7 linked regions of the Homo sapiens genome follow. The protein of the gene in region 5 purifies or fractionates together with the protein of the main gene of each other region. This does not show direct contact. Each region holds a gene or a part of one and is shown on either strand. Other genes may lie near its edges.

Evidence for each region.
Region 1: the proteins of KLK10 (region 5) and OR6C70 purify together in Homo sapiens (affinity purification with mass spectrometry; 2 studies listed by BioGRID and IntAct, with this or other methods). This does not show direct contact.
Region 2: the proteins of KLK10 (region 5) and DYSF purify together in Homo sapiens (affinity purification with mass spectrometry; one large-scale study listed by BioGRID and IntAct). This does not show direct contact.
Region 3: the proteins of KLK10 (region 5) and APOA4 purify together in Homo sapiens (affinity purification with mass spectrometry; one large-scale study listed by BioGRID and IntAct). This does not show direct contact.
Region 4: the proteins of KLK10 (region 5) and LTF purify together in Homo sapiens (affinity purification with mass spectrometry; one large-scale study listed by BioGRID and IntAct). This does not show direct contact.
Region 6: the proteins of KLK10 (region 5) and PADI2 purify together in Homo sapiens (affinity purification with mass spectrometry; one large-scale study listed by BioGRID and IntAct). This does not show direct contact.
Region 7: the proteins of KLK10 (region 5) and ITIH4 purify together in Homo sapiens (affinity purification with mass spectrometry; one large-scale study listed by BioGRID and IntAct). This does not show direct contact.

The regions. Positions count from the first base shown.
Region 1 is NC_000012.12:55,468,700-55,471,590, reverse strand, and holds OR6C70 (olfactory receptor 6C70), read left to right. Parts: upstream 1-1,452; coding exon 1,453-2,391; downstream 2,392-2,891. UniProt on the Homo sapiens protein: Odorant receptor.
Region 2 is NC_000002.12:71,683,199-71,686,698, forward strand, and holds part of DYSF (dysferlin), read left to right. Parts: intron 1-3,255; coding exon 3,256-3,294; 3' UTR 3,295-3,500. UniProt on the Homo sapiens protein: Key calcium ion sensor involved in the Ca(2+)-triggered synaptic vesicle-plasma membrane fusion.
Region 3 is NC_000011.10:116,820,505-116,824,586, forward strand, and holds APOA4 (apolipoprotein A-IV precursor), read right to left. Parts: upstream 2,801-4,082; 5' UTR 2,688-2,800; coding exon 2,639-2,687; intron 2,282-2,638; coding exon 2,155-2,281; intron 1,378-2,154; coding exon 363-1,377; 3' UTR 196-362; downstream 1-195. UniProt on the Homo sapiens protein: May have a role in chylomicrons and VLDL secretion and catabolism. Required for efficient activation of lipoprotein lipase by ApoC-II; potent activator of LCAT. Apoa-IV is a major component of HDL and chylomicrons.
Region 4 is NC_000003.12:46,454,906-46,458,405, reverse strand, and holds part of LTF (lactotransferrin isoform 1 preproprotein), read left to right. Parts: intron 1-2,007; coding exon 2,008-2,116; intron 2,117-2,427; coding exon 2,428-2,610; intron 2,611-2,963; coding exon 2,964-3,111; intron 3,112-3,500. UniProt on the Homo sapiens protein: Transferrins are iron binding transport proteins which can bind two Fe(3+) ions in association with the binding of an anion, usually bicarbonate. Lactoferricin binds to the bacterial surface and is crucial for the bactericidal functions.
Region 5 is NC_000019.10:51,014,475-51,016,709, forward strand, and holds part of KLK10 (kallikrein-10 preproprotein), read right to left. Parts: intron 1,683-2,235; coding exon 1,408-1,682; intron 1,077-1,407; coding exon 943-1,076; intron 479-942; coding exon 326-478; 3' UTR 1-325. UniProt on the Homo sapiens protein: Has a tumor-suppressor role for NES1 in breast and prostate cancer.
Region 6 is NC_000001.11:17,081,452-17,084,951, reverse strand, and holds part of PADI2 (protein-arginine deiminase type-2), read left to right. Parts: intron 1-249; coding exon 250-353; intron 354-1,114; coding exon 1,115-1,226; intron 1,227-1,237; exon of another isoform or gene 1,238-1,435; coding exon of another isoform or gene 1,436-1,540; intron 1,541-2,299; coding exon 2,300-2,407; intron 2,408-3,500. UniProt on the Homo sapiens protein: Catalyzes the deimination of arginine residues of proteins.
Region 7 is NC_000003.12:52,817,173-52,820,672, reverse strand, and holds part of ITIH4 (inter-alpha-trypsin inhibitor heavy chain H4 isoform 1 precursor), read left to right. Parts: coding exon 1-42; intron 43-355; coding exon 356-382; intron 383-682; coding exon 683-733; intron 734-880; coding exon 881-919; intron 920-1,154; coding exon 1,155-1,280; intron 1,281-2,136; coding exon 2,137-2,211; intron 2,212-2,389; coding exon 2,390-2,416; intron 2,417-2,504; coding exon 2,505-2,621; intron 2,622-3,500. UniProt on the Homo sapiens protein: Type II acute-phase protein (APP) involved in inflammatory responses to trauma. May also play a role in liver development or regeneration.

The sequences.
Region 1 (2,891 bases), on a different chromosome or scaffold from region 5:
TTATTAAACTTTTCTAAAAATTTCAAGATCTTTGACTTTAAACTGTTAACTTAGCCATTTTACACTTTCTTATGTCTTATTTTTTTCGTTTGTTTGTGATACTCAGCTTAACATTTAAAAATTAATTATTAAACAATAAAGAAGCTTCCCAAACTTTAACCCTGAGAGTGGATTGCCTTTTTTCTCAGTAGCCATTGATAAGTTATTTCTCAGATCCTTAGCTGGATTTTAAGTCCACTTTCTAATTCCTAGCAGTCTGTCACCTTTGCTTTACTTCTGTACTATTACTCACTTCACTTTTTTCATTGGCAACCTGATACTCTGGGAAACCTACAATAACAAACTTAAAATACCATCAGAATCCTTTTGTCCCATTCAAATGATTACACCCTTCCTACCCCATTATTTCCCTAAATTAATAGTCGTTGGTTACCTGCATGAATAATTGTTGGGGACTCAGATAGTGTGGCAAGAAAGCACTGATTTTTCACTCACAGTATTACATCTAGAAAGTAGGTTTAGACTGTAGGTACCTGTAACTGTAGCGACTTGGAAGAGATGCAATGTTTTATCTGTTTTCTTTCTTACTCCTATGGTCTTGATTACACAAGACAAAATTTTTAAGTCCTAAATAGACTTTTTTTTTGTAAATGTGGCAATATATGCATAATATTAAGTTTTGAGTTTCCTAGATTCAACTAGTATTTATTTTGTTGTGGTATCAACTCATACTTTTTAGGGGCATTTTTCCGTATCTTCATATGTAGTTCATAGAGAAGTTGAAAAAGGCTGTATAGCAGGGCTTTAAACAAATGTCACTTTAATATAATATAATGTAAAGTTTCAAAATTTGACTGTAGGTCTTTTAATTCTTAACAAAAAAGACAGGGTCTCTCTCTGTCACCCAAGCTGGCATCTCCCTATGTTGCTCACGCTGATCTTCAACTCCTGGCCCCAGGCGATCCCCAGTTTGGCCTCCCAAGTGCTGGGATTACAGGCATGAGTCACTGTGCCTTCCCTTAACTTAGGTCTTAATTCATTACACTGGCATCATTTTCTTTAGATGAAATTAATAATTTTAAAATGAATGAACTATTTTTGAATCCTGAACCAAGATCTTTACCTAATTTATTTACAACTTGACAAACCTGGAATTAGTTACAATTAAGTGGAATCTTGAAGTGGAAGCATGAAAAAAACTAGCTTGAAAATCAACTATTAAGGGCTTTGCAAATCAATTTTCCAAAGTGAGATGATGTTTGTTGTACTTTTAAACCCCTAGTTTACAATTTCTGTTGCATAGTTCTATATCATATCTTCAACATCCATGGAGTACTACCTCTTAAATGTATATGTTTGTAAGTGTGGAAACTTTCCTGTATCTTTTCCTGGACCTAGCTCAACCCTTGCACCTTTTTATTCCTAGAATTTGATTGAAATCACAACAGAGAAATGAAGAATCATACAAGGCAGATAGAATTTATTCTTCTGGGACTGACGGATAATTCTCAGTTACAGATTGTAATTTTCTTATTTCTACTTCTAAATTGTGTGTTGAGCATGATAGGGAACTTCACTATCATTGCCCTCATTCTGCTGGATTCCCAGCTCAAGACTCCAATGTATTTCTTCCTCCGTAATTTCTCTTTTCTGGAAATTTCATTCACAACTGCTTGCATTCCCAGATTCCTAATCACCATTGTTACCAGGGAAAAGACCATTTCCTGTAATGGTTGCATATCTCAGTTGTTTTTTTACATATTCTTGGGGGTTACAGAATTTTTCCTTCTAGCTGCTCTGTCCTATGATCGCTATGTTGCCATCTGCAAACCTTTGCGTTATATGTCCATCATGAGTAACAAAGTTTGCTACCAGCTTGTATTCAGTTCTTGGGTAACTGGATTCCTGATCATTTTCACTCCACTGATTTTAGGTCTTAACTTGGATTTCTGTGCTTCAAATATCATTGATCATTTCATTTGTGACATTTCTCTTATCCTACAACTTTCTTGCTCAGACACACATTTACTGGAACTGATTGCCTTTTTATTAGCTGTGATGACACTTATTGTCACATTGTTTTTAGTAATCCTTTCTTACTCTTACATCATCAAGACAATTCTGAAATTCCCTTCAGCTCAGCAAAAGAAGAAAGCCTTTTCCACCTGCTCTTCTCACATGATTGTTGTCTCCATCACTTATGGTAGTTGTATGTTTATCTACATAAAGCCATCAGCGAATGAAAGAGTTGCTTTAAGCAAAGGAGTAACTGTGCTCAATACTTCAGTTGCCCCGTTGTTAAACCCATTTATTTATACTCTGAGGAATCAGCAAGTTAAACAAGCCTTCAAAGCTGTATTTAGAAAGATATTTTCTGCTTCAGACAAGTAATACAACTTGTTGAAATAATTAACATGAAAACATAAAAGGATCTTTGAACAAAACACTAATTTGACTCTTCTAGTTTAAGAATTGATACCCAATATTCAATTATTTGTATGACTTTAGCTTGTCCAACAATCAGAACGTTTTTCATTCTATCCATTCTGACTTTAATTTTCTCTTTTTCAGTATTCAAACCTTTCTGTATTAGAAAGAAAACAATTGCAAAATTGATTTTCTCTAAAAGCATGTTAGAATAAAATAAATGAGTGGTTTTCAGTGATTATAGAATATAAGTTCTTCAAGAGTTTGATCTAAATAATTTATAAAAATTAAAAAATTATTTAAGAAAATTTGCGGGTACATAGTAGGTGTATAAATTTATGGGGTATATGAGATGTTTTGATACAGGCATTCAATGTGAAACAAATGCATCATGGAGAATGGTGTACCCATCCCCTCAAGTACTTATCCTTTGAGTTACAAGCAATCCTATTACATTTTTAAAG
Region 2 (3,500 bases), on a different chromosome or scaffold from region 5:
ATAGGGAAGCTGTCGGGGAGCGGGAGGCTGGCCCAGGAGCCCTTACTTGGCTCGGTGCCCATTTGGGTTTCCTTTCACTTGGTAAGAAGCCAATTGATGAGCTTGTGGGGCCATACCAGAGGTGGCTGTCGTGCCCTTGCTCTGTGGGGCCCTGCCTGGGGGAGGAAGGTCCCTGCCTGTGCTTCCCCAGCCCGCACAGCTCATCAGGGAACCCGGATCACCAGGGAGCCTCCCCCAGTGTCTCTGATACTTTAGACCTTGAAGGGGTTGCAGCATTCTCAGGCTGACACCTGATTTCTAATGCTCTTTAAAATTTAAAAGAAATCTTTTTAATATGAAAACTCCAACCCTATATAAAAGTGGAGAGAATGGTGTAATCCACCCCTTGAGGACCTTATGTTGGTGGCAAAGACGCAAACACCCAGAGAAGGAAAGGGCCTGGCCGTAGGCTGCACAGTATTCCATGCACACTCCCAATCCAGGGCTCACTGTGATTCCCACTTCAGGCCTCAGTCCTGGTCAGCACCAGGCCACTGGCCCAGAGCATTGATCCCATGGCAGACAGGCTGCTTGGGGAACTGCCCCCAGGTGAGCTCTTTGCTCTGTGAGTCCTCCAGGAGGAGGAAAGGGCAAGAGCCCCTCCATCCCACTGCAGCTGGCTATGCCCATGTCTGCAGAATGCATCTCAGAGAGGAAGAGAGTTATAACCACACAGCTTTCCATGCAGTTCTAACAGCTGAACTGAGAGGAGCTGGGGAAAGGATGTCTGGTTTGGATGTCCGGACCAGCTACCATCTGGGCCATAGTGACTAAGGAGAGTCTAGAACCAGGGTGGTGAAGGGTCTGCCTACAGGCCAGGCCTGCTAAGCTGGCTGTGGTCACCTGAGGCGCAATGGAGAAATGTTTCTGAGGTTCTGAGGTTTGTCCATCAGCAAAATCTGACTGTGGTCCAGGGTAGATCTAGGTTGCAGGGACTCGAGGTGTGTACGATGTGGGAGGCCTCTTTAAGCCAAGGGAGACGAGATTACAAATATAAGCTGAGATACAGGACTGTGGAAGAGTGTGTGCACGTGTGGTGTCCTGCAGCATGAGCTGTTGCTGTGACCTGAGATCCGGGGTCAGGCCCCAGGACTTCTGCCTGGTGTCTCCTGCCCAGGGGGCACCCTTCCCAGCCTGCCTCAAGCTCCTCCTCCCATTCGGAGCCCAGCTGGCCAGTGTTCAGTTAGCCACAGAGACTCTAAGCACGTGTGTGCGTCTGGGAGGTAAGGGCGTGTTTTGGGGATGAGGGAGAAGAGGATGAGGCCTCATGCCACTGGGGAGTGCTCACTTCCCTGGGGAGACATTGAAACCAGAGAGTAAGGAAAAGTACTGTGGATGATCAAATGCTCTTTTGGGAGGCTCAGGCCGTGGGAGTTTAGGAAGAGAAGAGCTGCTGCAGACCCTCGCCCTTGGTGTAGTCGGAGGACTAGCAGCAGTAGCACCAGGGAACTCACTAGAAACTCAGAGTCCCCGGCCGGCCCCGGCCTGCTGAGGGGGAATCTGCATGTAGGCACATGATGGTTGGAGAAACCCTGTTGGATGTGACAGAGCTCTGTCGCTGGAGTCAGGATTATGGACTCTTCCTGTGACCTTGGCAAATCCCTCCTGCTCACATGAGGAAGGGGCTGCACTAGGTTAGCTCTGGCCTTCTGTGGCTGGGACTGTGCTTAGGGGAGCACTGTCATCTTCCCTGGCTGCTGTATATTAAGCCAAGCCTCCTTCTGAAAAGCCAAGGGGAGGGGAAAGGCAGGTCCAAAGTGGCATCACCACCACCCATGACATGCCTAAGCCCAGCCCCTGCCAGCTGCACCCTGCACTGCTAGGCTACTGGGCAGCAGATCTAGGCCTCCAGGGGCCTGGGGAAGGAGGCCCTGCTGCCTGGCTGGGAGAGGAAGGAAAGATTTCCAGTCACTTCCAGCCTGTGGTCCTTCCTCATCGCTGTGGGCAGAAGCAGAGTGGTACTGTGGGGGGCCTGGTCAGAGCTCCTCCCTGTCTCCTGTCCCCCCAGCAGCGGGCCACTCTCCTTTGAGTTCTTCTGGAAGTTGTCCTCTTTAAAATATGGACCCTGCTTCCCCTCTCCCAGGGCTGGTGTGGGGATGTCAGATCCTAGGTAAGGGGTCTAGGGATGAAGGGGGTGGCCTGGGCCTGAGGCTGCAGACTGGCTTTGCTCACAGGTCTTTGCTACAAGCTGAGCACATCCTGCCTCCTTCCACCCAAGTCACTCATTCATTTGGCCAGTACCAGATGATGAGGGCCGGGCCCTGGTGACCCTCACCTGGCTTTCAGGCCATGGGACAGAGGCTGCCTGCCCCAAGCCAGGGCCTAGTGGAGAGGGGCCCAAGGACAGGGCAGCTTCCTCCAGTTGGCCTAATCCCCTACCCTCTTGGAAATTCCCTTGGGAGGGGTATGAGGGGGCAGCCTGTCTGATTCCTCTCAGCTTCCCCCTCAGAGCCAGCCGGGAGCAGGGCCAGCGTGGGGAGGCAGGAGGCGTTTGGCGGGGAAGGAGGGCCGGCTCTGTTTCCAGAGTTGGCTTTCCCCAGCCGGCGCTGGGGAACATACTGTCCCAATTAGGAGCCCTGTATTGTGTTGTATGTGTTTTCATGGTTTTTGGGGGGAGAAGTGGGGAGGGGAGGATACTGTCAATCCTGCAGCAGGCAGGGCTCAATCAAGGGTGCCCTGTCTCTAGTGCTGGGCTGTGCCGTGGGTCATCCACGACAGCCCATCCCCAACTCTCTCTCTGCTTTCTGGACAGGGGTGTGATGACCCGTAAGCCCTGGGCTGCCATGTGGGGGAGGACCCTGGGCCCCACCTTCAGCACCTGTCTGATGGAAGAGGCCAGGTCCAGGGTGCTCAGAGTCCTCTGGGCAGTCAGCTGGAACCTGGAAATGGGCCTGGCTTGATGGGGGAGAAGACAGAGCAATTTGGGCAGCTTTGGCCCCCAGGTGGGAGGGTGCGGGTGGAGTTTCGGAGGGTATGGGTTTGCCTGATGGGCTGGAGCACTAGGCAGGGCGGAGTGTTGAGCCCCACATGGTATGGATGGCAAGTGGTGAGGGCGAGGCGTGGGCAGGTGGTTGAAGAGCCACGAGCGTCCTCTCCCAGCCTCTTGCCTGTTGGCAGCTTAGCCCCATCCTCTGAGCCCCAGGTCTGGGACAGCTGCTCTGGCTGTGCCTGCCCCAGTGGGATCACCATGGGTCCCTGTCTCCTCCCTCCCTCCAGAACTATGCTGCCATGAAGCTGGTGAAGCCCTTCAGCTGAGGACTCTCCTGCCCTGTAGAAGGGGCCGTGGGGTCCCCTCCAGCATGGGACTGGCCTGCCTCCTCCGCCCAGCTCGGCGAGCTCCTCCAGACCTCCTAGGCCTGATTGTCCTGCCAGGGTGGGCAGACAGACAGATGGACCGGCCCACACTCCCAGAGTTGCTAACATGGAGCTCTGAGATCACCCCACTTCCATCATTTCCTTCT
Region 3 (4,082 bases), on a different chromosome or scaffold from region 5:
AATGTGTGACATCTTTTTCTGCCTCCCCTTAGAGGACTCCCCATGTACTCGCCTCCAGTCCACCAGGCCCTTACCTCTCCTGCAGTCTCATCTCCCCAATCCTGGGTGTCTCCTGCCAGGCCGCTGCTAAGCTCTGCCCAGTCATGGTTACCTCCCCACCTCCCCAGCTGCAAGGAGGATTCATCCGGCAACCAGTTGAGGCTAGATTCTCAGCAGCTTTATTGAATATTGAGAGGTGGTCTCACCTCCCACTGGACATGTGTCCTCAAGTTCATACCAGAACTTCTTTGGGACAGACAGACAGACAGGTGGCAGGGCAGGGCAGGTGTCCACGAGGGTGGGGCCAGTGCACCAGGGGCAGCTCAGCTCTCCAAAGGGGCCAGCATCTGCACCTGCTCCTGCTGCTGCTCCTGCTGCTGTTCCTGCTGTTGCTCCAGCTCAGGGAGGGAGAGAGTCTTGTCCTGGCTCTCTTTCTCCTTGAAGGTGCTGAAGAAGGAGTTGACCTTGTCCCTCAGGTCCTTCTCCAGGAAGCTCAAGTGGCCTTCCACGTCCCCCGCATGGGGGCCCAGTTTCTGCCTGAGCTGTTCCATCTGCTGCACCAGGGCTTTGTTGAAGTTTTCCCCGTAGGGCTCCACCCGGCGTCGGAACTCCTCCACCTGCTGGTCCAGGTGCCCACCCAGCTCTGCCAGTGACTTCTGCAGCCCCTCGGTGTTGCCCCTCAGGTTGCCACGCACGTCCTCGGCCAAGGGCGCCAGCCTCTGCCGCAGCTCCTCGGCACTGGCCGAGATCCTGGCCTTGAGCTCCTCGGCGTTCTTCTTCATCTGGAAGGTCAGGCCCTCAAGCTGGTGGTTGAGCTTCTCCTGCGTGTCCTGAGCATAGGGAGCCAGGCTGCGGCGCAGCTCCTCCACGGTCTGGTCAATCTTGACTTTGAATTCGTCAGCGTAGGGCGTAAGGCGTCCCTTGAGCTCCTCCACGTTCTGGTCGATCTTGGCCTTGAGCTCGTCGGCGTGGGGCCTCAGCGAGGCCTGCAGGCTGTCGGCGTTCTCCCGCAGCACTCTCTCCATGCGCTGTGCGTAGGGGGTCAGCTGGCGCCGCAGCTGCTCGGCCTGCGTGCTGACCTGGGTGCGCAGCTGGTCCGCGTAGGGCTCCAGGCGCTGCTGAAGCTCTCGCAGGTTGTCCCCGATCTTCTGGCTCACCTCATTGGCATGGGGCAGCAGCCGGGCCCTCAGCTCCTCCAGCTCCTTCCCAATCTCCTCCTTCAGTTTCTCCGAGTCCTTGGCCAGGCGTTCATGCAGCTCGGTGGCAAAGGGCACCAGCTTCTTCTGCAGGTCACCTGCGTAAGTGTTCACTTCTCCAAGTTTGTCCTGGAAGAGGGCACTGTGGGGAAGGGCACAAGGAGGCCACGTTACATTTGGCATTTACACGGCAAGACTTTGTCTGCTTGTATACCACTCGCCTTATGCACACGTGCTAGGACAGGTGAGTGCTCAGAGGTACCGAGTTCACCCTCCCTATGGTGGTGCAGATTGGAGAGGATGGGTGTCACAGACTAAGTTACGATGCTGAATTTCTATCTCAGGATCTCCCACATAGTTTGTCTCAGAATCTACCCACCATGTCACCTCCAGCAGTTTGCTTTCCCCTCCTTGTCTGCAGAGGGTGGGACTTTGAGGTCCTTCCCAGAGGGAGTGTTCTGGGCCATAGGATCACATTGTGTAACACAATGTTGTCTTCTTGACCTCTGCTGGGGTCTTCCAGTGGCACAAGGTGCTGCTTTCCTTGCCTGTGCCCAGGGGCCTCCCAAATATTCCCACCTCCCTCCCCTTGATTCCACTGGGGCCTGTCTTTCTGAAACGTATTAGAAATCAGCTCACGTGACATTTTCCTCCCTCCCTCTCTTCCATGAGCCTGAATGATAGGATGTGGCCATTTGTCAAACTCTAGAACGTCAAAGCAAAAGGACATGGCAGGGATTATTCGGTCCAAACTTCCGGTTTACATATGTGGATCCTAGGTTCAGAGGCCCGGCCAGTTAGTGGCAGGGCAGTGGGTATCCTAAGCTCAGGGCTCCTGTCTCTAAGCTCAACCCTTGCCAGTACATTGCATGGCCTTTAAGAATTCCCCGTCACCACCGCACACTGTAGTCCCTCTTACTTGAGTTGCTGGGTGAGTTCAGATTTCTGGAGATGTTCCACGGCCTCCTTGGCATTGTTGCTCAGCTGGCTGAAGTAGTCCCACATCACCGTGGCCACCTGGTCAGCACTGACCTCAGCCCTGGCTCCTGGGTGGTAACAGAGAGCAATTCATGAGGCCCCGTCTCCTGTGTGGCCCCTCTGCTCCAGCTCTGAGCTGCAGACTGGATGATGGTGGGGGTGCCTCAACCTGCCATTTTCCCTGTCTGAGCTTAGCTTTTTGGAAGCCACAGGGATATGTGAAACTGGTATAGCACCAATGCCAATGGGCCCACCACTGGGACTGGGCCAGCTCTCCTGTGAGCCACTTGGCAGCCAGGCAGACCTCATGTCCAGCTGGGGGCTGATGGGCACTCAGAAGTGTCCTTTTGCTTTGGCTCAGCCTCCATCCTGCACTACTCAGAGCAGCAGCCCAGGAGTGCCATCCAAAGACAGCTTCTACTCACCGGCGACAGCCACCAGGGCCAGGGTCAGGACCACGGCCTTCAGGAACATCCTGAGCTGCTTGCTGGGCTGGAGGAGTTTCTTGCCACACTGGATCCTCCCTACAATCAGGGGAGCTGACAGAGAGGTCCTCAGGAGAGCTCACCTGCGCTGCAGTGGGAACTGACTGAAGCTCAGAGCCAGCCAGACATTTAAACTCTCTCCCTATCGCCACCCCCCTGGCTGCCCTCCCCTCCTCCTTCCTCAGTGTGACTCCACGCTGGAAGGTGACACATTCCCAAGAGGCCTCTTGGACTTTTGTGACCCTGAGACTACGTGGAAGCTGACAGCAGATCAGGGCTCAGGCGATAGTTAGAAGTGGTGGCTGTTCCGTGCGTGGGCACCCCCACCCCCACCCCACCAACCTCAGCATGGAAGGGAGGAGGGGAACGGAAAACAGTAGGAGAAACACCTCAGGGAGCCCATGAGCCCGGGACTGATGCCTCGAGGCCCTGCTGGCGGCTCTGGGTTTGTGCCGGGCTCATGGGGGGCAAAGTCCACATCTCCTCTGTCTACCCCAGTGAAGACAGGTCCCCCCAGTCTCCACATCCGCCACTAATGCTGACTCCATCTCAGAGCACCAGACACTGGAGTGGGACCATCCAGGACTGCAGACAGCATAGTGAGCTAAAATCTAGGTCTCTTGTCAAGGTACACCCAAGAGGAGGGGGCCCTGGAGAGCCTTTGGGCAGATGGGTGTGGGAGACAGGGCCTTGTCCTGAAAGGGTTAATTGTAGAGTGCTTCATGTCCCACTCCCATGCTGTGCCTCCTTGGTCTAGTTATTCAAAGCCCTGAGCTTCAGTTTCTCCTCTGAACAATGGGATGGTTCAGTACATTAAAGAAGACATTGCTTGCGAAGTGGGTAGTACGGTCATCTCTCAGTCTCCATGGGAAATTGATTCCAGGACCCTCTGCAGATACCAAAATCCATGGATGTTCAAGTCCTTGATATAAAATGGCATAGTATTTGCATATAACCTAAGCACAGCCTCCCACATACTTTAAATCTCTAGATTACTTATAATACCTAATACGACGGAAATGCTGTGTGAATGGTTGTTATACTGTATTGTTTAGGAGGTAATCACCAAAAAAGTCTGTATATGTTTAGTACAGGTGCAATTTTTTTTTTTTTTGAGATGGAGTCTTACTCTGTCACCCAGGCTGGAGTGCAGTGGCACGATCTTAGCTCACTGCAATCTCTGCCCCCCAGGTTCAAGTGATTCTCCTGCCTCAGCCTCCTGAGTAGCTGGGATTACAGGCACCCACCACCACGCCCAGCTAATTTGTGTATTTACAGCAGAGACGGGGTTTCACCATGTTGCTCAGGCTGGTCTCCAACTCCTGGCCTCAAGCAATCCTCCCATGTGGGCCTCCCAAAGTGCTGGGCTTATAGGCGTGAGCCA
Region 4 (3,500 bases), on a different chromosome or scaffold from region 5:
TCGGAAAATAAGATCCCTGTTTGAAATCAGTACTACATACCATTCATTCAAATAAAGTTGAGATAGATTAAATGGTTAAAAATAAAACTTGTATTATTGAAAAACTAGGGGGCAGGTTAACTAGCAGAACTGTAGAGGAAATAGAAATCTCTTAAATGATGATCTAAATCACGAAACAAACAGATATTCTAAAATACAGAAAATGTAATTCATAGCCCATAGAAAATATTTAAATAAAAAAATTAGAAAGGACTGGAATGAATGAATATGCGCCAGCTCTGACACATGATTACTATTTACACTCTATAAAAGAATAACTCAAGGCCGGGCGTGGTGGCTCACATCTGTAATCCCAGCACTTTGGGAGGTCAAGGCAGGTGGATCACGAGGTCAGGAGATCAAGACCATCCTGGCTAAGATGGTGAAACCCCATCTCTACTAAACATACAAAAAAAAAAAAATTAGCCAGGCATGGTGGCACACGCCTGTAGTCCCAGCTACTCAGGAGGCTGAGGCAAGAGAATCGCTTTAACCCGGGAGGTGGAGGTTGCAGTGAGCTGAGATGGTACCACTGCACTCCAGCCTGGGTGACTCCGCTCGAAAAAATAAATAAATAAAAGAATAACCCAAATTGGAAAAAATGTAGAATCATAGAAGAAAAATGATATGAACAGAGTTACCAGTAAGAGGGAATTCATAATTAATAAAAAATACTTGTGAGATGTTCCCCTTACTAATCAGACCTGAGCGATTTGTTAGTACTCACATTTTCTATAGTAATAACAGCTAATAGAATGATAGCCTGCCCTGCTGGTGATTCAAGAGTGAAGCTGGTCCTCACGGTCAGCGCCATTCTGAATTGGTATTATAAGTCTTCTGGAAGCAGAATGGCAACGGCAGCCCGGGTCACAGGGGGAAACGTGCTCCTCATCTGGGGGATTCCACCCTCAGCTGCCTACCCAAGGACACAAGTGGTCACAAGGAAAAACACTGAGGACAAAGATATTCATGAAAATACAGTCTTCACAGGAAACAGTTAGAAATAAACTTAAATGCTAAACATTGGGGGAAATTATTCAATACACGATAGAACACCCACATTATGAGAAAACATTATGCTGTCTACAAAATCAGTAAAGGCTCTGCAGAAGTTAGAAAATGTATCCAGTTTTAGAGGAATAAGCAGTCCACAAAATATGATGTATCCCAGGGGTCCCCACCACCTGGCCACGGACTGGTACCGGTTGATGGCCTGTTAGGAACTAGACCTCAGACCAGGAGGTGAGCAGAGGGCCAGTGAGCATGACTGCCTGAGCTCCACCTCCTGTCAGATCAGCGGCGGCATTAGATTCTCATAGGAGTGTGAACCCTAGTGTGAACTGTGCATGCGAGGGATCTAGGTTGCACTCCCTATGAGAATCCAATGCCTGATGATCAGAGGTGGAACGGTTTCATCCCAAAACCATTCCCCATCTGTCTGTGGAAAAATTACATTCCCTGAAACTGGTCCTTGGTGGCAAAAAAGTTGGGGACCACTAAACTATCCCACATTGCAAACCAAAGAAATATGTAATCATGTGGGAAGCAATGTGCTGAAGCGGAGGAACATGGTTTCTTATGAAAATTTTAGGATAGCTTAATAACTATATTTTCTATCCAATAAAACAGAACTTAAAAGAAATGAATATAGAGCAAAAATAGAAAGTATCTAGAACAAACGACTTCAAATATAGATGACTGTGAGGGGTGTGATCGGGAGAGTGACACAGGCAGGCAGAGGAGAAAGAGGGCAGGCGCCAGTCTCAGGACTTAGAGGGCTGGTGCTCACTGTCCCAAAACAGGGGTCCTTGGCTCTCACCATCTCTCATAGGAAGTGAGGGGACAGGATGGAAAGCGGACCCCTTTGACGACCCTTCCAGCCATGGAGACTTTTTGAGGTCCTGAAGTCCCACTTGCTGGGTTTGGGTGAGTTTTCTGCTGAAGCCAGTCTGGCCTCTTTACTTTCAGGAAAACAGGGCCGATGCTGTGACCCTTGATGGTGGTTTCATATACGAGGCAGGCCTGGCCCCCTACAAACTGCGACCTGTAGCGGCGGAAGTCTACGGGACCGAAAGACGTGAGTTCTGCCTGGGGACCCAGAGGCCACGGTGGCCTCAGCCTGTGCCCTGAGCTGTGTGGATTAAGACTGGGGGAACATGTGGAGGTGGAGTCTGGGTCACATCACACATGTAGGGAATGGAGTCGCTGGGCTCTGGGCCAGATGAAGGCCGTTCCTCCTGACGCTGACCCACGAGAGGAGGACACACGTGAGCTGTGAGGAAACTGCAGCACAGCATTCCCCCTTCCCACCGGAGACTTTTCAGGATGGGTTGTTTTTGTCCCTCTTGTCCAGGCTAAGAACTTTCAATTCTGTCTGCCCCTTTGCAGAGCCACGAACTCACTATTATGCCGTGGCTGTGGTGAAGAAGGGCGGCAGCTTTCAGCTGAACGAACTGCAAGGTCTGAAGTCCTGCCACACAGGCCTTCGCAGGACCGCTGGATGGAATGTCCCTATAGGGACACTTCGTCCATTCTTGAATTGGACGGGTCCACCTGAGCCCATTGAGGCAGGTAAGATGGCTGGGGGATAGTGAGTGGCCTCAGGCAGGGGGCTCTATTCCAGTTGTAAGCACAGGCCACACAGATCATGCAGGTGAAAGTGTGGGATGAATCAAGGTGGGGGTGAGGCTGGCCAGCTTGTAACATCCTGCTGGCAGGATCCGTTACCCTAGCAGCCCTTGGGAGGCACAGCTGAGTCTGCTCTCGGCAGAGGTGCATGTCTCGAGCTCCCAGCCCCATGACAGAGTCTCTCCTGCAGGGGTGGAGGAAGGGGCCTTGCCCACGGAGACCTCAGGATGGGAGGTGTAACCTGCTGTGACCAGGGCTGGCTCACACTCTGTGGTCCACTTCTCTGTGTTTAACAGCTGTGGCCAGGTTCTTCTCAGCCAGCTGTGTTCCCGGTGCAGATAAAGGACAGTTCCCCAACCTGTGTCGCCTGTGTGCGGGGACAGGGGAAAACAAATGTGCCTTCTCCTCCCAGGAACCGTACTTCAGCTACTCTGGTGCCTTCAAGTGAGTGACCCTGTCCCCTTCTCGTCAGTGGCCAAGTGTCCCTTGGCCTCAGGCCGGGAGGCCTTTTCTCTGGCCCCACATAGAGCCCAGCCTGCTCTTGGGGACGAGAGGAGGTCTGTTCTCCTACTGCTGTGTGTCCAAAGAGAGTGCAGGCCTGCCCAGTGTGTGTTCCCCTCCAGCCTTCCGGGCCCAACTGTGCCCCCAACTTCTCACCAGCCCCACGGGCAGTCACTGTGGCTGTGGGCCCTCCTGTTACCTCAGAGAGCCCTGAATCCAACTTGGCTGCCCTGTTGTCCTGGGTTCCTCATACTAATTTCTGCCGCCTGCCTAACCACAGCAGGACTGAAGGCATCTTGTCATGAGATGTCCAGTCCTGGCTCCTGGTTGGG
Region 5 (2,235 bases):
AGGGAGTGGCAGAGGAAGTCAGGTTGGGTGACCCCAGTAACTGCTCTCAGAGGCTGGGTGATGACCGGCTTCCTGGCTTCTCTGGAATAAACCTTTGCCACCACTTCCTGCATTTCAGCTTCAGTACAGGCAGAGAATGGGGATAGGTGGGGGAATGAGGTGAGAGGGGAGATGTTTAGAGGTGTGGAGGGCGGCAGAGGTTTGAACAGTGCAGACAAGGGGAGAGTTCAGCCGACTGGGGAGGAAGAGGATGGACGATGGAGCCTCTGGGCATCTGGATCAGCAGGAGCATAACATCTGGATCAGCTGGAGCGTAGCATCTGGATCAGTTGGAGCGTATGACTTTATTGATCCAGGACATGTATTTGCAGATCTGGGTGTAGACAGCTGGATGCTGGGCAGAGCCACAGGGGTAAACACCCCACGAGAGGATGCCTTGGAGGGTCTCGTCACAGACCAGGGGGCCTCCAGAGTCACTCTGGGGGTGGCAGGAAGGAGAGATCAAATAAATGTGCCAACGTGAGAGCTGTCACTTTGGGATCTGGGGCAGTGGTGGGGAAGGAAGGAGTTGGGTTGGGATAAAGACGAGGATGGGATGGGGTTGGAATTAGGTATGAGCTGGAAGGTAGGAATGGAGGTGGACTTCAGGTTATGGGAGGTTGGGCTGGGGGATGAGAATGAAGGCACAGTGAGACTGGGGTTGGGATTGTAGTTCATGGAAGGTGAGGGGATGAAAATGGGCTTGGAGATGGGAATGGGGTGGGGTTGGGATGGAAATGGGATTGAGGATAGGGATGAGGAGGGGGTTAGGTCTGGGTAAGAGTTGGGGTCAAGGATGGGTTTGGGAATGGAGTTGGGGATCGGGCACAGGGTCTGCTCTTTTCCCATAACCTCCCTGTCCTCCCTCCCAGGAGTCAGAGACTCTCCCTGTTCAGACCCTACCTGGCAAGGGTCCTGGCCCCGGTCCAGTCCAGCACATATCATGTTGTTGGTGACCACGCCAGGGTAGAAGACCTCACACTCTTTAGGGCTCAGGATAGTGATGCTGGAGCAGGTCAGGCCCTTGTTGTACTTCACTGAAGGGAGAATATGCCAGTAATCCCTGGGTCCAGCCCCCAATCCTTGGGGAGCCAGGAGTCCAGATACAAGACCGTTTCTATCCTAAGCCCCAGCCCCTCCTCCTTCAGACTCAAGAATCCTGGCCCCAGCCCCTCCCCACTTAGACCCAGGAGTCCAGGCCCCCAGCCCCTCCTCCCCTCAGACTCACAGACCCAGGCATCTAGGACCCCAGCCCGTCCTCCCTCAGATCCAGGAATCCAGTCCCCAGCCCATCCTTCCTCAGACCCAGGGGTTCAGGCCCTCAGCCCCCTCCTCCTGAGGTTCCGGCCTCAGAGCCCCAGCTCTTGCCTCTCCGGGCGGCCGTGGTGCCCCAGCCAGCAACCTGGCACTGGTCTCCGGGCTGAGCACAGCGGTAGGGAAGCTGCAGGGCCCGGACGCGGGGCCCCAGCACTACGGGCCTGGCCAGCTTCAGCAACATGAGATCGTGCTCATCCGTTCGCCTTGGCAGGATGGGGCCTGAGCCCTGGTGGTACTTGGGATGGACAACAGAGCGAGTGGTCCGGCGGAGCTGCTCTCCCTGAAGAAGCAGCAGGTGGTCATCCCCTACTCGAGCCCACAGTGGCCTGGGGGAAGGAAGAGGCATGTGAAGGCAAACCCTTCATAGGGACTGGGAAAGCAGGTGGGCAGTGACGCAGGGCCTGGAGATAGGAAGAGTCTGAGGGAAGAGGGCCTTGTGGGAGAAGGGGACCTCAGTGGACATGGGGAGGAGGAATCAGTTGTTTGAGCTCTGAGGATCTGTAGGAATTGAGGAGGGCTGGGGGCCTGGACACCTAGGTAAGCCTTCCACATTTTCTTTTCTCTTTTTCTTTTCTTTGTTGAAACAGAGTTTCGCTCTTGTCACCCAGGCTAGAATGCAATGGCGCAATCTCGGCTCACTGCAACCTCCACCTCCCAGGTTCAAGCAGTTCTCCTGCCTCAGCCTCCTTCCTGAGTAGCTGGGATTACAGGCACCCACCACCACACCCAGCCTTTTTTTTTTTTTAATTTTTTTAAAATTTTTTATTTTTTATTTTATTTTATTTTTAGTTGAGAAGTGGTTTCACCATGTTGGCCAGGCTGGTCTTGAACTCCTGACCTCAGGTGATCCACCCGCCTTGGCCTCCCAAAGTGCTGGGA
Region 6 (3,500 bases), on a different chromosome or scaffold from region 5:
GGGCGGTTAACAGCCCTGTGACTCGGTTTCCCCATCTGAAAAGTGAGGATCATAGCAGTATCTACCTCCTGCGGTGGTCGGAAGGCAGAAAAGAATTGGCACATGTGAAAGTACTTAGCACAGGCTTGGTGCATAGCAAGTCCTGAGGAAATGTATTCACTGTCATCAGTTTCACCCGCTTTGAAAGGCAGGCAAAGAAAGCACCTGACAAAACCTTTTGATCCCCCACGCCTTGTCTCCCACACCCAGGACATTCCCCTGACTCCCATCTTCACGGACACCGTGATATTCCGGATTGCTCCGTGGATCATGACCCCCAACATCCTGCCTCCCGTGTCGGTGTTTGTGTGCTGGTAAGGGGTGACCCCAGCCTGGAGAGGCAGCGTGGCAGAGTGGCCAAGGGCCGAGTCAGATGGACATGAGTCTAGTTCCTGGCCCCGTCACTTACCACTGTGTTACCTTGAGCAACTCTCTTGGCCTCTCTGAAATGCCCACATCGTAGAGTCACTGTGAGAATTAAATGAGATGAAGCAGGCAAAGCATTTATCCAAGGCCCAGCACACAGGGTATGCTCTAAAAATAATAGCTGCCATTCTGTTCTCTTGCTTAACCCTCTACCAGGCAGTTAGCAACCTCCTATGCAGTGGAAATGCAGCTCATCTGACTCATTCATTAAACAGACTTTTATTGACCACCTATTATGAGCTAGGTCCACAACAGCAAGATGAGAACCAAGGGAAAAAGTGCCTGTGATTAGATGGCTAGCAACCCAAAAGGGACCCTTGGGGTCCTCACGTCCATCCCATCTTCATGCCAGGCAGAGCTCTTCTTTGAAAATCTGTGGAGTCAGAGGTGTAAGGCATTGGGACAGGTGGGGGTGAGAGTTCCCCCCCTCATTTTATTTGTTCATGACCTTGACAAACGCCACATGAGTGGGTGGGTTTACTTGGCCTTTGATTCCAGCGGCCTTTATAAAGGTGGCCGTGAGCACAGGTGTAGACTGATCTGCCCGGCACAGCCCAGAGATACCAGCTGCTGTCACCATCTCAGGGAGATGACTCTGGCCCCTCCTCACCCTTTCTCCTGGCCTCTCCTTCTTCCCCCAACTTCTCAGCATGAAGGATAATTACCTGTTCCTGAAAGAGGTGAAGAACCTTGTGGAGAAAACCAACTGTGAGCTGAAGGTCTGCTTCCAGTACCTAAACCGAGGCGATCGCTGGATCCAGGTAAGGAGCCCAGGTCCAGGCTGGGAAGGACATGGCCCCCGGGTCAAGCAAAGAAGAGTTGGCTTCATGTGAACTGCCTGGCACCCAGCAGCTCTGCAGATGGGGATTCTTCTGTCAGCTCATATCTGCACATGTGCACAAAGACATAAACATACAAGTGCACTACAGTGCTGCTTCTTGTAGTAGCAAAAGATTGCAAAGCAACCTAAATGTCCATCTGTGGAGGACTGAGTAACGGCCTTCCCGGAAGTTCTGTGCAACCGCTAAAAAGGATGAAGCCAGTCTCTCAATATGGATACAGGATGTGCTTCAAGTTAAGTTGTTACTCAACGGAAAACATATTCAGGATGCTGCTTGCTATTTGTGTGTTTTGTTTTGTTTGAGACGAGGTCTCGCTCTGTCACCCAGGCTGGAGTGCAGTGGCATGATCTCAGCTCACTGCAACCTCCGCCTTGCGGGCTTAAGCAATCCTCCCACCTCAGCCTCCCAAGTAGCTGGGACTACAGGCATGCACCACCACGCCTGGTTATTGTGTTTTTTAAAATGAGGTCTAGGCCACGCGTGGTGGATAATACCTGTAATCCCAGCACTTTGGGAGGCTGAGGTGGGAGGATTGCCTGAGAACAGGAATTCAAGACATGCTTGGGCAACATAGCAAGACCCTGACTCCACAAAAAAAAATTTAAAAATTAGCCTGGCATGGTAGTGCACACCTGTAGTCGTAGCTACTCAGAGGCTGAGGCAGGAGGACCGCTTGAGCCCAGGAGTTTGAGGCTGCAGTGGGCCATAATCATGGCACTGCACTCCAGCCTGGGCAACAGAGTGAGACCCTGTCTCAAAAAAAAAAAAATGGGGCTGATATCGGTAAGAAACCTGCCTGTGATGTGCAGAGACTGCCTATGGACACCTGTGCTGCCATCATCAGTGTGAGGGGAGGAGGATGGGGGACCAGGGAATGGGGAACAAGACAGACGTTCTTCTTCCTTTGTGCTCTTGTGTTTCTCGAGTTTTCTGCCCATGTGCACAAATTGTCCCCTGGATTCGTCTAACAGTTCTCCTTGGTGTCCCTGCAGGATGAAATTGAGTTTGGCTACATCGAGGCCCCCCATAAAGGCTTCCCCGTGGTGCTGGACTCTCCCCGAGATGGAAACCTAAAGGACTTCCCTGTGAAGGAGCTCCTGGTAAGATGCTGAGGGCCACTTGCGGGTGGAGCATGATCCTGGAGATTCTCATAAGACAGAGTGGTCAGGAGACCCTGGGCCGCCTTGACACATTCATCTGCTGCCCAGAGCCTCTGTTTCTCCTCTGCAAAATGAGTCCACTTGGGATAGCTGCCTCTGAGGTCCTTTCCTGCTCTGATAACTGATGTTTTTCCAAAACATAGAGAGTTTTCTAGTGGGAAATGGGAACTAAGGGAAATAGAGTTAAGACCTAGTTCCAGAGGCCCTGGCCCCTGCTGCTGCCCTTCCCCTCCAAATTGCAGCAAAATGAGTTAAGTTTCAAAGAGGAAAAAAACATAGTTATGCAATTGTCAAAAGTCATGGTTCCAACTTCCAAGTTCATCAGCACTTTGAGGCTATGGTTTTTGGTGCGTGTGTATGTGTGTGTTTGTTTTTGTTTTCTGAGACAAGAGTCTTGCTCTGTCGCCCAGGCTGAAATGCAGTGGCTCACTGCAACTTCCATCTCCCAGGTTCAAGCAATTCTCCTGCCTCAGCCTCCCAAGTAGCTGGGATTACAGGCATGCACCATCATGCCTGGCTAATTTTTGTATTTGTAGTAGAGATGGGGTTTCACCATGTTGGCCAGGCTGGTCTCGAACTCCTGACCCCAGATGATCCACTTACCTTGGCCTCCCAAAGTGCTGGGATTACAGGTGTGAGCCACTGTACTCAGCCATGTTTTTTGTTTCTTTGTTTGTTTGTTTGTTTGTTTTTAAGTCATCTGACTCCTCCCATTCTGGAAGCCATTCTCAGTCCCCTTTTAGGCCCTTGACAACCTAGTGTGTGAAGTTAGAACCGAAACCAATCTTTCTTTTGTCTGCACTCTTCTGCCCTGAACAGGCTGGGGGAGGTTTGAACAGGGCATGAAACAAGAGACTGGAATAGATCAGGGGACTTTTCCCAAGGTCACATGCAGGACAGCATTCCTGTCAGACGCCAGGGCTGCCCAGAGCTGACCCTGTGCCAGGTTCACACCTGTTCTGCCCCACATTCCTTACCCAGTGCCCTGTTCACAAGGAGATGCTAGAGCCAATGGTGTCAGCACAGAGCTTTG
Region 7 (3,500 bases), on a different chromosome or scaffold from region 5:
ACCAAGAGCAGTCTCAAGTTGCTGAGAAGCCCATGGAAGGCGGTGGGTGTGGGGTTGAGATCTCAGCCTCCCAGGTAGCAGAGTTTGGACCCAGCGTTCTCCCCGATCTTCCCTGCATCCTGACCAAGACCCCAACCGTGCCCCCAACAGACTCCCCCTGGGAGATTCAGCCTATTCACTGATGAGGAAAGTGAAGCCGGGTCTCCTGTCTCCCCAAATTCATTGCACCTACGATATAGTCCAGGATTGGGTAGCAAGATTAAACACAAGCGCTTCAAATTGATGAAAACCACCCTGACGGTGTCTGTCTGTGTCTCTGTCTGTCTGTCTCTCTCTCTCTCTTTGTTTTATCCAGAAAGTAGAAACAGGAATGTCCACTCAGGTAAGCAGCGAACATCCTCAAAGGCTGTGCTGGGTGGTGGTCTGCTAACACAGGGTCCAGGGCACCAGCCCTGTGAGGTTGCTGGCCAGGGCCCAGGTCCACCCAGGCCTCTCCAGCCCATCCCTGCTGCCAGGAGGCAGTGTAATCTGACCCAGCATGCTGGTGCATTTAGTCGCCTGTGCATTCAAATATTGGCTGTGCCTCAGGCCCTGTCCCCAGCACTAAGAATACAGTCCCCATCCAAGTGGGGCCACAGGAAGGTGGGTGCAAGATGCAAACCCAGGTCCCACTGATTTCCAGGTTCCACTTTCTTCAAATATTATCTCCAGGGAGCAAAAATACCAAAACCAGGTGACAAAGTAGGAGGTGGGGGGAGGGGAGATTGACAGATTGGGCTCAGTCCTGGCTGTGGAGGGTAGTGCCTTGCCCAGCTCCTCTGGCTGGTGACAGCCCTCGGGCCTCAGTTCAGTTGTATCTGATCAGGACTTGACCACACAGAGGCTTCCTTTTCTCCAAGAAGAGGATGGAATAGACAAGGTAGTTTGAGGGTTTCTGCCAGGGGGAGGCATGACATCCCTGGGGGGGAGCTTGAGGGAGGTCCATTATTGTTCATCTCCCAGCTGTTGGGGGAGAGGCTCCCCAAGTTGGCCGGGTGTGGGGAGAGGGGACATAGCTGCCCTCTCCGCACCCACTCCTGGGTGGATCTCAAGCCCTGGCTGTGAAGACCCACACCCCACCTGAGAGAAGACTGCATCTGTCGATTTCTCCAAAGCTGGAGCTGCTGGCTCCCGGATGAATTTCAGACCTGGGGTTCTCAGCTCCAGGCAACTTGGACTCCCAGGACCTCCTGATGTTCCTGACCATGCTGCTTACCACCCCTTCCGCCGTCTGGCCATCTGTAAGCTGCCTTCCGGCCCTGCGAGGGCCTCGGTTTCCCACGGTGGTCCTTGAGCCTGCCCCATAGAGGGGGGTGGGGTAAAGCACGCACCACAGGGCCAGGCCAGGGACGGCTGCTGAGGGCACGATGTGAAGTAATTGTGGGTCAGTTCAACCTGGGATCATTTACTGGGGCTGGGGTGGGAGTGCATTTCCTAAGGAGGCTGTCCTCGCCTTCCCAGCTCTTTGCAGCTGCCCCCTGCCCCATCCTTAGCGTCTCATCTCCTCAGATGCGAGCTCACCCGGGTCCTTTAGCTGCCCCTAGGTTGTCAGACCACAGGCCATGACAGAGCAGCCTCTCCCACACTCCTTGTTCAGAGGGGACCCTAGGCCCTAAGAGGGGCACGGACTGGCCAAGCATGCACATCACAGCGCTCTTTGGAGCAGTCCTTGCCAGCTTCCTCTCTCTGAAGGCCCCTCTCCCCACTACCCAGTGTATGGACATCAGGCCTCCCCTCCCCAAGGCAGGACTTCACCTGTCCTTTACTTTCACTGAGTAGGATCCACTATACTCTAGAGGCTGACTCATGAGGAAACCTTCTAGGAAGGGAGGGCTTCCTCCGTTCAGAAAGCCAACAGAGGTCCCTTGAACTGTTTTCTGATCCCCAAATCTGCACTCGAATGCAGCTGCACAGCCAGGCTGGACCTATCCCTGACAGCATGCTCTTCTGTTTGAAAATCTCCTGTGACAAAGGCCATTCTAGGTGGAGTGTATGTGTGGCAGGATGGGGGGCTGGAGCTTGGTGGCAGCGCTGCTGGTTGCCCGCCTCCTGACTGCCTTCCTGCTCCCTTTCTGTTTCCGGATGTTCCTGCCCTAGTGCCTGCTTCAGCACCACCAGCCACCTCAAATCCTGATCCAGCTGTGTCTCGTGTCATGAATATGAAAATCGAAGGTGCCCCCAAGGCCAGAGGCCCTGTCCTAACAGGGGGATCCTGGGAGGGGAGTGACCTGTCACATGTCTCGATGTTGAAGTAGTGAGGGAACCCAGCCACACCTAGTCACTGCTCCCTCCCTCAACCTCCCACTCCTCAGGAAGGGGCTGCCTAAACCCAGACTTTTTCTTCTTTTAGAAACAACCATGACAACCCAAACCCCAGGTAAGTTCCCAGCCCCCTTGGCCCCTTTCCACATCCTTGCCCCCAGCCTGCCCTTCCTGCTCCAGGAGCCGTGCCCCGGCTGTCCCAGCCCCCATACAGGCTCCCTCTGCCATCCTGCCACTGCCTGGGCAGAGTGTGGAGCGGCTCTGTGTGGACCCCAGACACCGCCAGGGGCCAGTGAACCTGCTCTCAGACCCTGAGCAAGGTGAGAGAGGCACACCCAGAGAGACCCAGACACCACTGGCACACACCCACCACCTGCCTACAGAGACACACACAGCGCGTGCAGGCTGGCCCCACACAGGCCCCTCCCAGATCATAGCATGGTCCTGCCTCCCAGTGCTGGCATGGGCACACACTCACACAGACACCCCGGGGACCTTCCACTGGGCACCTTGTGTGCAGGTGTGGGTGGCCAAGGCACAGATAAGCATGGCAGCCATGTGGAGGTGAGCCTAGAGGAGGAGCCAGGGTGGGGCAAGGGTCAGGGGAGCTGCCTGGGGTCACACAGGGATGGCAGGGCCATGGCGGGTGCACAGAGACCAGCATGAGGATGTTCCAGATGATGGAGGAGTTAGTGCCTGCAGAGTACAGAGCCCCAAAAGATGAGACCTAGAAGGTGTGGATGAGGGGAATGGCAGGAAGAGACAGGGGTGCTGGCTGGGCCCTGCCCCTTCAATCCTGGACCAGACATGGGGACACACTCCACTCAGCAGTGCTCACCCCCGCACCGCCCAGCCCCGCTCAAAGCCAAGGGACATCCATGGCTTTCTCATTCCTCAGATGCATGTGTCACCCACTTCCTCACTCAGGCTAGGAATGTCTTTCCTGAGGGCAGGGAGCACCAATTCTCCATCTTACCCTTGGCCGCGGCATCTAGCTCAGGGCCAGGCGCTCCATGGGGCGTTCTGAAGGCTTATTGACTGGAGACAAGTTAATTCTCAAAGGCCTCAACTGAGGGTGGCCGTCGCCGAGGATTTAGGGGCCCCTCCAAAGCCTTAGACACCAAGGGACAAGTGGAGAGATTGTGGGAGCCAGCCCCCAGTGTGAAGGAGTGCTGAGAAAGGGGCACCCCTCCTGATGA